Linked DNA regions of Homo sapiens. The protein of the gene in region 2 interacts with the protein of the main gene of each other region in a biochemical or structural test. Each region holds a gene or a part of one and is shown on either strand. Other genes may lie near its edges.

Region 1 (7,033 bases), on a different chromosome or scaffold from region 2:
CTGTATGGCTTTTATTTTTCTTGATAATTTGAAAAGCAAATCTGACCAAGAATTTGTAGTTACCTCTGAAGATTAGAAGAAACCAGGCCTCTGAAGCCATAAAACAGAGGATTATGTGGGAAGGCATTTTTTTCAAGACAATAGAACAATTTCCCTTAGAAAAGCTGGCCTTTTTCCCTTTAATTCATACATGGGTGTTACCTGAATCTGAACAAACCTCGAACGAATCTTTAGAGCAAATAATGAAAATGTTATACCTCTTAATGCATGTTCCCAGTTTGGTTGGTGGGGGTTGGTGGTGACTGGAAGAGGCCAGTGGTTAATTTCACATTTAGGTATTTCCATCTAAAAACTGAATTCCCATTTATTTACTTTGTTTGCTGGTTGTAGCAGGTAAGGACAAACAGAGGGTAAAATCCTGGCCTTTTTACAGACATGCTCAGCACGTCTACTTATCTGTTTAAATAAATTCTCAAATTTAGTCTCTAAACTGGGCGTGTTCCAACTAGCTTAATAGGTGGTAGCGTGGTTGTCAAATGTTAATCTGTTCTTTCCTGGAGATGTTGTAAAAATTTGGAGTAGAGTGGTGCTTTATTTAAAAAAAGAAAACTTATAATGCACTCTCCTTTTCATTGAATTCCCAATACATATATTATTTCCTGTTCCAAATTTTGTATGCAAAAGCACCTAGACTTAAGATAATTTTTAGATGTCACACATTTGAAAGAATCAAACATTTTGTCAAAGGTTGTACAGGTAGAGTTTGCCCTTAAGCATCTTACTTAGTCAAATATGTACTTGAAAGACTTCACCAGTATGAAAGCCTAAGTGCCAATCATGGAATTTTCTTTCTCCTCCTAGTTCTCAGCACAGATATTCTACACCTCACGCCTTCACCTTTAACACCTCCAGTCCCTCATCTGAAGGTTCCCTCTCCCAGAGGCAGAGGTCGACATCCACACCTAATGTCCACATGGTCAGCACCACCCTGCCTGTGGACAGCAGGATGATTGAGGTAATAGGGCACCTTGGGGGTGGTAATGTCAGTCAATTAATGGGGTGAGGTTGATACTTATTTCAGAGTTTTGGGTTTCAAATCTGATCAAGGAATGTTGCAACACTTTCTCAGGTCTCTGGACTTTTACAGTTTATTTTATATCCATAATATCTTCAGACTGGCTGAATAGTCTGGTTAGTATATCATTCAACTGGAGAACTAAAACTTCCTGAAAAAATGTTAACATTTGAACTCTTCCCATTATCAGATTTGAATAGGCTATTAATGAACAAGTGTCTAAGATATTTAAAGAGCAGTTTAGTTTTGGTGTGGGACAGAAATTAACAGTGATGGAGAACTACAGATTCTCTGGAAGACTTTTGTGATTTTATTTAGAAATAAAAGGGTGGAGTCCTAGGACTTTAATAAGCAGGTGTTTGGGGAGATGTCAAAGTGCCCAAAGCTAGTGTTTTTGAACTGCTTTTTCTTCTCTTGGCTTTTTGGTTATGTCCTATTGGTTTAATTTGCTTTCTGCTTCATCTTTAATAACAACTGAATACACTTAAATACTTCCTTTGTTCTTTATTCTTCTTTATTTCTCATTGCTTTGGACTAGAATAACAACCTGAGTGCTTCTCCCAGGGCGTGGTCCAGACGATTTTGTTTGAGGGGAAGAGTAGGTATTTTTCTTCATGCCTTTGCTTTCTTGTAATTAACAGGATTGCTAAAACTGTCAGACAGCAGACTACCAAAAATGAAATAGTTGCTAAGTTAAATTTATATTTCTTGTCACTTGTTTCCATGTTTTCTTTTTCTTTCTTTCTTTTTAAAATTTTTTTTGGCAGTAGAGTATATAGAAGTAAAAAAAATGTTGTATGTGGTATTGATGATAGGTGAAATGAATTTCTGAAGTTAGGCCAGGCATGACGGTGTATGTCTGTTGTCCCAGCTACTCCAGAGGCTAAGGCAGGAGGATCACTGGAGCCCAGAAGTTCTAGGCTGTAGGGAGCTACAATTGTGCCTGTGAATAGCCATTGCACTCCAACTGGGGCAACATAATAAGAATCCACCTTAAAAACAAACAAAAAATGTTAAGTTAGATTTTGAGGCCAAGGGCATTAAAAAGTTTTTTTTTTAAATCAATTCCAACCAAAGGCTAATGTTAGACTTACTTAGTTGGTGCTCACAGCATTGGTATTCTGTTTATACATTAGTAACCAAATGTGTTTTTGGTTGATAAACCCTAGAATAAATATTCTTTATTGAAAGCTTATCAGAGACAACTATGCTCTCTCTCATCATGTAGACACCTGCTGCCTTAGGCACAGTTTATCTCATTCAGACCTCAAATCACTTTCAACATAATTGTCCTGCCACTATTGTGAGGAGATCATGTATAAGCTATAAATTTTATTATTTTGACTTTATCATTATGATTAGTCCTGATAATACAATAATATACCAGTTACTGCTACTTCTATTAAATGGTTTGTTCCTGTATGAACACTGTAATACTTACAGGGAACAGTAAAGGTCAGAATTGGCTGGGTGGGAAGATCACTTGCGACCAGGAGTTCAAGACCTACCTGGGCTATATGTAGCAAAACCCCACCTCTACAAAAAAAAATGTAAAAATTAGCTGGGCTTGGTGGTGTGCACCTGCAGTCCTAGTTACTCAGGAGGCTTGGGCAGGAGGATTACTTGAGCCCAGGAGTTTGAGGTTGTAGTGAGCTGTGTATGATTGTGTCAAGTAAGAATTTTTGAGTTTTTATTATAAAAGAATTAGCACAATTGTTGTGCCTAATCATTTTTTACTTTAGAAGCAGGGTAAATTTTGATTCCTGTTAATTTAATCACATATAAGTCAGCATTTTTAAAGTAGACTAATTGTTGCTTTATTCAAATTATTTGTGGGTCTCAAATTATTCATAGTTCTCTTGAGTATTTAGACTCCAGGAACAATAGGAAAATTCTTTCTAGAATAAATTGATCCAACTATAGAAATTAGCACAGAATAAAATATGGGATATTTAATTGATACAGGGAAGAAAATTACCATAACATTAAGGAAAATATTCTGCTACATAGGAATATAATTGTGGTTAATAAAAATAAATTGTGCTTTGCTTTAAAAACAAAGAACAGCTTAGTTGGATAATGAAATTACAGCTGCCGATTTCTATTGAAATCCACATTATTTTTTGCCAGTGTTTTGCCCACCTGGCAGTTATCCTGCTGTACTTAAAAACACACATTCCTGGACTTCTCACATTCCCCTCCAAAACATGCTCAGTCAATCGTGGGTCGGGGATTAGGGGTGGATCTTCATTCTTCTTTCCAGAGTCAGAATCACTCTCCAGGTAATTCTGAAGACTAGCTAGTTTTGGGAACCAGAACTAGGCTTTCTTGTTAAATTCCGAATTATGTTTTGGGAGCAGGGGAACAGCTTGGTTTGATTCTTTTTATCTAATTATATAATTAGATATATAATTTTATCTTTTTATATAATTGAGTGGGAGCATTCTAGTAATAGTTGTGTGGAACAAGTATCTTGTCTATACTGTAGTTACACAAAGAGAATATAGTAGGACTTCCCCCCAAAAAATGTCCTTTTTTAGGATATGGGGGCCAAGTGGTTTTATATTATTCTATTATACTGTTCTATTCCAAGCGATGAATTTTAGATTGGGGTTTAGGTCTCATAGAGCCCTCTGCAATTTAAACTATTTTCCAAACAGTTTCTAATAAATTCTAAAGATAGCCTTTGCTTTCTCCCATGAGGAGAATGTAACCGATTTCCAAATTTACCCATAAGGCAGTGTTTTGTGGTGAAAGAGCTGAGGGCTGAGATCCATATATGATGGTTTCTGGTTCTATTTCTGCCACCTACTGGTTCTGCCAAGTGACCCTGCCAAGTCTCTCTACCTGTTCAGATGTGTTTTCTTATATGTAAAATGTAGGTTTTGAACTTGGATTTGTGGTCTTTCCAGCTTTCTGTGATTTTAGGCTTGGATAAAGTATATAGGCTGCTTACCTTTTTCAAATCCAACTTCTAGTCAATTTAGCCTAACTCCTTGTGGAGTAAGAGTGAGCTTCCCCCAGAATCCACCTCCCCACCCTGGCTTTTTAAAAAAAGTTTTGAGCCTCAGTGGAACAAGAATCCCAATCTTTGGAAGGGTCTCAGCTGAGAGTAACTTTGCTAGCTTCCCTTGAAAGAGTATGTTTGTTGTGTACATTGCTTTCTTTTGAGAAAAAGAATGTGGTTTTCATTATATATGAAAAACTAATACCAGGCTTGGCACGGTGGCTCACGCCTGTAATCCCAGCACTTTGGGAGGCCGAGGCGAGAGGATCACCTCAGGTCAGGAGTTCAAGACGAGCCTGGCCAACATGGCGAAGCCCTGTCTCTACTAAAAATGCAAAAATTAGCCGGGCGTGCTGGTGCACACCTGTAATCCCAGCTACTCGGGAGACTGAGGCAGGAGAATTGCTTGAACCTGGGAGGTGGAATATTAAATCCTTCTAATATTTAATGAAAAATCAGCCTTGGAGATACTGGCCACTGATATTTGCTGAATTTAATCAAGGAACGTTGATTAGAGTATGTTTAGGATTTCTATGGTTTTTAGAGGTTTTTATAATCTATTTTGTTCTTGCACATCCTCCTCCTCTTTTTTCCCTCCCCCAGAGAAAATCTTTTGTGTGTAGGAGTTGACCAGCTTTCCTTTTCTGTTTCAGGATGCAATTCGAAGTCACAGCGAATCAGGTACTTTTCCATAGTCATTTAGCCAACAATAATGGGCTTTTTTTCTTTATGCGGTGTATCTTCTGTTGGCTTATCCTTGTGTGGCTTCTGTTTGTCTTGTCTATTAAGCCTCACCTTCAGCCCTGTCCAGTAGCCCCAACAATCTGAGCCCAACAGGCTGGTCACAGCCGAAAACCCCCGTGCCAGCACAAAGAGAGCGGGCACCAGTATCTGGGACCCAGGAGAAAAACAAAATTGTGAGTATAGACAACAGTACCTCCTGCCAATTAGGGTTCAGTAAGAAAAACCTCGTTGGAAATTAGAATACTTAAACTTATTTTGGGAGAAGATTCTAATAAAATACATTCAATGAAGGAGATTATAAATGTTACTGTCATTTTTGGCACACTTGCATCAGACAGTTTGCCAGTGCTATAACTAAAATGGTATTTCTCAAAAGACAAAAATTGGAAGTATGGTTAATATGTTTATCTTTAAAAGATATGGAAACAGATGACATGGGTTGATCCTTTGATGCCCTCATTATCAAAAGATTATTACCATTGCATGGAGTATAATAATGATCTCTACTTGTTTCAGAGGCCTCGTGGACAGAGAGATTCAAGCTATTATTGGGAAATAGAAGCCAGTGAAGTGATGCTGTCCACTCGGATTGGGTCAGGCTCTTTTGGAACTGTTTATAAGGGTAAATGGCACGGTAAGCTTGGGGCCCTCCCTTTACTAACTGCAGGGCTTTGGTGTGAAGTCAAGTTTCAGCCCAGGGGGCCAGGAGGAGGAGAGGACTGAGTGCTCCTGGGCTTATAGCAGTACTCTCCCTTACATACTTGATTATACCTGAAGATTGAACTTAATTCTTTTTAGACTAAGTTCTTATAAAGCTCCCAGGATAATTAGAAATTAGTGAATAAGACTTGAGCCCTATAATCAAATGTCAGGAGTACTTCTCCTTTAAACTGATTAAATACAGTCTGCACATGGGTCATGCTTGGAAGCTCCTTAAGTGAGCAAGAGTCTGCTGCTATGGAGGGAGCATGGGTTCTAGAAACTTTAAGCTGGAAAGGACCTTAGAGATTGAAATGGGGACTGATTTGCCCATGGTCATGCAGTTAGGCATAGGAAAGCTGGAAATCTCCTGAAGTAACTTCTCTTTGTCCTGCCCTAGGATTAGCTGTGGGTGTCCCTATCAAACAGGGAAGGCATTGACTTAATTCTTGAATCTATGTGGAATATTAATGTTCTGATTTTAATGGAAACACTTTGTCACTTGGAAGAAAGGTACTATTTAACTTATGTAGTTACAGCTTGTGTATTTTGGCAACACTGAACATTTTGGCAACATACTTAGCATTTCTCTGTTAGGTTTTTAATGCCTCTGGCTTTAGGACTTTGGGAAATAATAGGTATTTCCTTGAAAATGCTGCATGTTCCCAAAAAGTCATCTCTTCTAAATTCAGATTACAATAAAGCAAAAATCACAGAGTCCCTTGGTGCCTATACTACTTTGGATGACACTGGAATTATCTTTAGAGATAAATGTGCAAAGATTGAGAGAAGTTAAAAGCATCAAATGAATGGAGTATTAAAATTCAAGGTACTGAAAATATCAAACACCTCCAGTTTTGAGTACTTGGTGGTTTTTTTTTTTTTTTTTTTTTTTTTTTTGAGATAGATTCTTGCTCTGTTGCCCAGGCTGGAGTACAGTGGCACAATCACAGCTCACTGCAGCCTCCAACTCTTGGGCTCAAACAGTCCTCCTGCCTAAGCCTCCCAAGTAGCTGGGACCACAGGTGAATGCCCAGCTAATTTGTTTTACCTTTTGTAGAGACAAGGTCTCACTATGTTGCCCAGGCTGGTCTCCAACTCCTGGACTCAAGCAGTCCTCTTGGGTCTCTCAAAATGCTGGGATTACAGGCATGAGCCACTGTGCCCAGCCTTACCATGTGCTCGTTAATGCATGGTTTTTACCACTTGTAATTAATCATCTGACCAATTTCTAGTTCCTTAAGAGGATTGGCACCCGACTGAACATTTGTAAAGTACATGTGGAATGATTCCTTTTCCTTTGAAAATTGCATCTGGCTGGGCAGGGTGGCTCACGCCTGTCATCCCAGCACTTTGGGAGGCTGAGGCAGGCAGAACACTTGAGCCTAGGAGTTCAAGAACAGCTTGGGCAACATCGTGAAACCCCATCTCTACCAAAAATTAGGTAGATGTGATGGCACTCGCCTGTAGTCCCAGCTACTTGGAAGGCTGAGGCAGGAAGATTGCTT
Region 2 (6,994 bases):
CCAGTCTGGCCAACATGGTGAAACCCCGTCTCTACTAAAAATACGAAAATTAGCCAGGCATGATGGCAGGCGCCTGTAATCCCAGCTACTTGGGAGCCTGAGGCAGAGAATTGCTTGAGCCCAGGAGGAGGAGCTTGCAGTGAGCCGAGATCGTGCCACTGCATTCCAGCCTGGGTGACAGAGTGAGACTCTGTCTCAAAAAAAAAAAAAAAAGAAAGGACTGTTGTTCGTGGCTGTGTTGTGGCAGCCAGCATGTTCTTGATGCCCAGTTGCTGACTGTGCAGTGAATGTTCCCTGATCTCCTGTGGTGCTGACATCCCGTGTTTCTTCATGCAGAGAATGGCATCATTTCCTGGTGGTCAACATGAAGGGCAATGACATCAGCAGTGGCACAGTCCTCTCCGATTATGTGGGCTCGGGGCCTCCCAAGGGCACAGGTTAGTAAAGGTTGTTTTTGGTGGGAGGTTGGGGAGGGAGCTCGGGGGCACATTAGGATTGACCCAATGCTTTTCTTTTGAGAGCCCTTAACCCTGCTGGAAATAGCATCTCAGCTTACCTCTAGGGCAGCTGCCTTCAGGGCACACATTCAGACCTGCAGCAGTGTCAGGTGGCTAGAGCCTTGGGTTCTGGACAGACGGACCCTTTGTGTAGAGCTGTCTCTGCACCCCTAGCCCTTTAGCAAGCAGGGAAGTTGGTGAGAGGGAAGCACTGTTGCAGAAAGCTTAGCATGGCCTTTTGGGGCTGCAGTGAGTGGAATACACAGTTAAACTATCTCAAGCCTTTGCCCGGGGTGATCTTTGAGTTTCTTTAAAACATTTCAGAAATGATCATAGTTTCCAAATTAACTATATAAGGTTGCTTTCTGTATTTGTTTCTGAAAAAGTCTAGCTGGGTATATTGAAAACAGATTTGGAAGACTTCAGTAGAACTATATTGAAGGCGCACACACACACACACACATTGTATTGTGTAGTATCGTGTTATAGCTATTATATATAAAATACATGTAGATATTTAGAGATAGAAAGAGAAAGCCCACCGTATTGAAACTTTCCAGGTTGGGTAAGTGCCACCTAAGCTGATGGTGAGATATGCATTCTTATTGCCTGGTGTTCAGTTCAGGATGTTTCCATTTGGTGGAACTGTCATAATCCTAGCTTTTTGTACAGCTTATCCAGCCAGGAGTTAACATGAAGAGGTACAAGAACATCTCTGACATGGACAGTTGGTCATGGGCTCATGGTTTCTCTGTAGACCCGGAAGCTTCAGATGCCTTTAAACCCTCTCACGCATGCATAGTAGATGGTAAAGGGACAGATTTCCCAGGGACCTAGTAAGTTCTCTAGGGCAGTTATAAAATTAGGCAGGTTAATTATGGGAAGCTTACCCATGAGAATAAGGCAATTCTCTCAAGTAAGAGCTGTGTTCTCATTTTTTTTTTTTGAGATGGAGTCTTGCTCTGTCTCCCAGGCTGGAGTGCAGTGGCACGATCTCGCTCACTGCAAGCTCCACCTCCCCGGTTCATGCCATTCTCCTGCCTCAGCCTCCCGAGTAGCTGGGACTACAGGTGTCCGCCACCATGCCTGGCTAATTTTATGCATTTTTAGTAGAGACGGGGTTTCACCGTGTTAGCCAGGATGGTCTCAATCTCCTGACCTTGTGATCTACCTGCCTCGGTCTCCCAAAGTGTTGGGATTACAGGCGTGAGCCACTGCGCCCGGCAGAGCTGTGTTCTCATTTTTAAAAAAGCCTCAGTAACTCATTTTCTTGTTGTTTTTTCCATATTCTTGTAATATGGTATAATTTACATGGTAACAAAATCCACAGATCGGAAGGGTTCAGTCAGCAAATGTGATCAATGCATACACCCATGGAAGGTAGCAGCCATTGGAAAGACAGATGACATTTCCATCGCCCAACGACATTCTCATGTGACCTTTTTACTTAAATTCCCCCAGAGCTAACCATATTCTGACTCCTGTCTCCATAAATCACTTTCACTATTCTTTTTTTTTTTTCTGAGATGGAGTCTCGCTCTGTCTCCCAGGCTGGAGTGCAATGGCGTGATCTCGGCTCACTACAACCTCTACCTCCTGTGTTCAAATGATTCTTCTGCCTCAGCCTCCTGAGTAGCTGGGATGACAGGCGCCCACCACCACGCCCAGCTAATTTTTGTATTTTTAGTAGAGTCAAGGTTTCACCATGTTGGCCAGGCTGGTCTCGAACTTCTGACCTTGTGATCCGCCCGCCTTGGCCTCCCAAAGTGCTGGGATTACAGGCGTGAGCCACTGTGTCCAGCCACTTTCGCTATTCTTGTGTTCATATAATGGTATCATGGACCAGGCACGGTGGCTCACGCCTATAATCCCAGCATGTTGGGAGGTGGAGGCAGTTGGATCACTTGAAGCCAGGAATTCAAGACCGGCCTGGCCAACATGGTACAACTCTGTCTCTACCAAAAATACAAAAATTATCCAGGCATGGTGGCATACGTCTGTAGTCCCAGCCACCTGTGGGGCTGAGGTGGGAGGATGGCTTGAACCCGGGAGGTGGAGGTTGCAGTGAGCTGAGATTGTGCCATTGCGCTCTAGCCTGGGCGATAGAGCAAGCCTCTGCCTCCAAAAAAAAAGTATCATGCAATGTGTATTTTAAAAAATTTGGGTGACTGGTCTGCTTCATTCCAGATAATATCTGTGAGATTGGTCCATAGATTGTATCAATAGTTACCCCTTTTTATTGCTCAGTAATATTCCCGTTGGTGAACAGGCCAGTTTGTTTAGCCATTCTCTATTGATGGGCATTTGGGATGTTTCCAGTATTTGGATATTATGAAGAAATATCCAAATATTATCCAGTCTTTTTGTTTAAACTTCTGTGTATTATTCTAGGACTATTTAGCTTTGAAAAGAAATTTGGGCACATGCTACACCAGGATGAACCCTGAGGAACATTATGTTAGTGAAATGAGCCAGTCACACAAAGACAAATACCGTACAATTCTATGAGATACCTAAAGTAGCCAAGCTCACTGAAACAAAGTGGAGTGGCTGCCATGCATTCTTTTTTTTTTTTTTTTTTTAAATTTTTTTTTTTCTTGAGACAGAGTCTTGCTCTGTCACCCAGGCTGGAGTGCAATGGTGTGATCGCGGCTCACTGCAACCTCCACCTCCCAGGTTTAAGCGATTCTCCTGCCTCAGCCTCCCGAGTAGCTGGAATACAGGTGTCCACCATCACACCCGGCTAATTTTTTTTACTTTTAGTAGAGACAGGGTTTCTCCATGTTGGGCAGGCTGGTCTTGAACTCCTGAGCTCAGATGATCTGCCCACCTCAGCCTCCCAAAGTGCTGGGATTACAGGCAAGAGCCACCATGCCTGGCAAAATTTACCATCTTAACTCTTTTTTTGAGGCTGGAGTGCAGTGGTGTGATCTCAGCTCACTTCAGCCTCCACCTCCCAGGTTCAAGTGATCCTCCCACCTCAGCCTCCTGGGTAGCTAGGATTACAGACACGTGCCACCATGTCTGGCTAATTTTTATATTTTTAGTAGAGACGGGGTTTCACCATCTTGGCCAAGCTGGTCTCAAATTCCTGACCTCAAGTGATCCACCTGCCTTAGCCTCTCAAAGTGCTGGGATTACAGGTGTGAGCCACTGCGCCCCCTCCATCTTAACCATTTTTAAGTGTACACTACAGTAGCGTTAACTACATTCACTTTTTTTTTTTTTTTTTTTTTTTTTTTTTTTGAGATAGGGTCTTACTCTGTCCCCTAGGCTGGAGCACAGTGGCACGTTTTCAGCTCACTGCAGGGCTCAGCTCACCTCCTGGGCTCAAGCAACCCTCCTACCTCAGGCTCCCGAGAAGCTGGGACTACAGGCACAGGCTACCTACCACATCCAGCAAATTTTTGTATTTCTAGTAGAGACGGGGTTTCGCCATATTGCCCAAGCTGGTCTCAAATTCCTCCTGGGCTCAGGTGACCCTCCCACCTTGGCCTCCCAAAGTCCTGGGATTATAAATGTGAGCTACCATGCCCGACCACTACATTCACATTGTTGTGAAACAGATCTCTAGATTTTTCATCTTCCCCAACAGAAACCCTGTCCCCATTGACCAACAGCTCCCCATTTCCCTTCCCCTAGCCCTGGCAGCCACCATTCCACTTTCTGTTGCAGTGTTTGTCTACTTTAGATACCTCGTGGAATTGTACAGTATTTGTCTTGCGACTGGCTAATTTCACTAATGTAATGTTCTCAAGGTTCTCTGGTGTAGCATGTGTCTGAATTTCTTTTTAAGGCTGAATAGTCCTAGAGTAACACAGGGGAGTAAAGAAAAAATAAAAGGCTGGATAATATTCTGTTGTGTGTATAAACCACATTCTGATCATCTTTTCATCCATCAGTGGACAGTCGGGTTGCTTCTGCTTCTTGGCTATTGTGAATACTGCTGCATTGAACATGGGTGTGCAAATATTTAAACAACTTTTTAAAAAATAACTTTGTTTCTGGCCGGGTGCAGTGGCTCACAGCTGTAATCCCAGCACTTTGGGAGGGCGAGATGGGTGGATCACTTGAGGTCAGGAGTTTTGCCAACATGGTGAAACCTGGTCTCTACTAAAAATACAAAAACAAAACAAAACAAAACATAACTGGGCGTGGTGGCACGTACCTGTAATCCTAGCTACTCAGGAGGCTGAGGCAGGAGAATTGCTTGAACCCAGGAGGCTGAGGTTGTAGTGAGCCGAGATCATGCCACTGCACTCCACGCCTAGGCAACAGAGTGAGACTCCGTCTCAAAAAAAAAAAAAAAACCCACTTTTTAAAAAAATAAGAGCTCATGGTACCTATTTGCATCCAGTACATCATTGAAGCTTGTAGAAAGCTGCTTAGTTAAAGTGAGGTTGGGTCACTTCGAAGTAGTCCTCCAGTTTTCTAAGCAAGTAAATTTTGGAGGTAGAAAGAAAATGTTCTCCTTTATCCTAGAGGCTCGACTGTGGTATGGTGGGCCCGGGTCATTGATTTGCTTTGTCCTTAATTGGTTGCTCCTACCTGACAGAAGTGAAATGGGTGTTCTGATGGGGGGTGGTGGGTGGTGACTTGAGAAGGTCCGGGAGCCTGAAGTGGGATGAATGAAGAGCACAGAGGCTCGTTGGGAGGCGAGGATAAGGGGGTGCAGAGGCCAGATCCCACAGGCCAGGAGAGGCTGGAACTAAGGGCTTGGGCTTGACACCAGTTACAGCAGGGGCCTAACACATTCTATTAGGTTGATGCAAAAGTAATTGCGGTTTTTGCCATTAATGTGTTAATTGCCATTAAATGTTAATTTGCACCAAATACCTGTCTGGACCCTCGGTGTCCTCCTTGTAAATGGTGTGGTCTGGGTGCCTCCATGTTGAAACATTCGATAAAAATGGATGATGTCCCCATCTCAAGTGCTGGGCTGTGTGTACATCTTCCCTCTGCCTCTCCCCACAGGCCTCCACCGCTATGTCTGGCTGGTTTACGAGCAGGACAGGCCGCTAAAGTGTGACGAGCCCATCCTCAGCAACCGATCTGGAGACCACCGTGGCAAATTCAAGGTGGCGTCCTTCCGTAAAAAGTATGAGCTCAGGGCCCCGGTGGCTGGCACGTGTTACCAGGCCGAGTGGGATGACTATGTGCCCAAACTGTACGAGCAGCTGTCTGGGAAGTAGGGGGTTAGCTTGGGGACCTGAACTGTCCTGGAGGCCCCAAGCCATGTTCCCCAGTTCAGTGTTGCATGTATAATAGATTTCTCCTCTTCCTGCCCCCCTTGGCATGGGTGAGACCTGACCAGTCAGATGGTAGTTGAGGGTGACTTTTCCTGCTGCCTGGCCTTTATAATTTTACTCACTCACTCTGATTTATGTTTTGATCAAATTTGAACTTCATTTTGGGGGGTATTTTGGTACTGTGATGGGGTCATCAAATTATTAATCTGAAAATAGCAACCCAGAATGTAAAAAAGAAAAAACTGGGGGGAAAAAGACCAGGTCTACAGTGATAGAGCAAAGCATCAAAGAATCTTTAAGGGAGGTTTAAAAAAAAAAAAAAAAAAAAAGATTGGTTGCCTCTGCCTTTGTGATCCTGAGTCCAGAATGGTACACAATGTGATTTTATGGTGATGTCACTCACCTAGACAACCAGAGGCTGGCATTGAGGCTAACCTCCAACACAGTGCATCTCAGATGCCTCAGTAGGCATCAGTATGTCACTCTGGTCCCTTTAAAGAGCAATCCTGGAAGAAGCAGGAGGGAGGGTGGCTTTGCTGTTGTTGGGACATGGCAATCTAGACCGGTAGCAGCGCTCGCTGACAGCTTGGGAGGAAACCTGAGATCTGTGTTTTTTAAATTGATCGTTCTTCATGGGGGTAAGAAAAGCTGGTCTGGAGTTGCTGAATGTTGCATTAATTGTGCTGTTTGCTTGTAGTTGAATAAAAATAGAAACCTGAATGAAGGAACTGAGTCCCCGGATGTTTTGTTCTATTGGGTATAGGTTTCATAAGTGTGAGAAGTCAAGTCTCAGGGTGAGTCGTCTCCGTGACCAGCAAGTAACAGCTGGGACTTGTTCTAGGGGCCATATGGAGGGTCTGTGCCTCTACATGTGCCATTAACCCACAGCAGGAGCAAACAGTTCAGATTTGAGGTTTCTAAAAAAAAAATCATAAAATGTGAGGCCGAGTCTTATTGCCCAAAAAGCACCTTTGCTTCAAGTGGTCCTTTTGACCCAAGAAGGATGTTCTAAAGAAGATGGCTGAAAACCTTCCCCCTTGGTGAAGTCTGGCGCGGACACCGTAACAATGCCTAAGAAGTAGCCTGCACTTCCCGTTCTGATGTGTTATCCACAGAGGCTCAGTACCAAAGAGGTGCGCAGGGTAGGAGGGTGAGAAGGTCACGGTCTCATGCCATCTGATGTACCGAAAGAAAGGAAAGGAGGTGTTTGAAGGTGCAAATCACTGTGATTTGGTCTCTGCGATGCAA

The links. The genes of interacting proteins can lie anywhere in the genome.
Region 1: the proteins of PEBP1 (region 2) and RAF1 form a complex in vitro, tested with the Homo sapiens proteins (3 studies listed by BioGRID and IntAct, with this or other methods).

The regions. Positions count from the first base shown.
Region 1 is NC_000003.12:12,598,118-12,605,150, reverse strand, and holds part of RAF1 (RAF proto-oncogene serine/threonine-protein kinase), read left to right. Parts: intron 1-861; coding exon 862-1,015; intron 1,016-1,613; coding exon of another isoform or gene 1,614-1,673; intron 1,674-4,735; coding exon 4,736-4,763; intron 4,764-4,871; coding exon 4,872-4,999; intron 5,000-5,342; coding exon 5,343-5,460; intron 5,461-5,925; exon of another isoform or gene 5,926-6,038; intron 6,039-7,033. UniProt on the Homo sapiens protein: Serine/threonine-protein kinase that acts as a regulatory link between the membrane-associated Ras GTPases and the MAPK/ERK cascade, and this critical regulatory link functions as a switch determining cell fate decisions including proliferation, differentiation, apoptosis, survival and oncogenic transformation.
Region 2 is NC_000012.12:118,139,115-118,146,108, forward strand, and holds the end of PEBP1 (phosphatidylethanolamine-binding protein 1), read left to right. Parts: intron 1-336; coding exon 337-437; intron 438-5,471; coding exon 5,472-5,689; 3' UTR 5,690-6,470; downstream 6,471-6,994.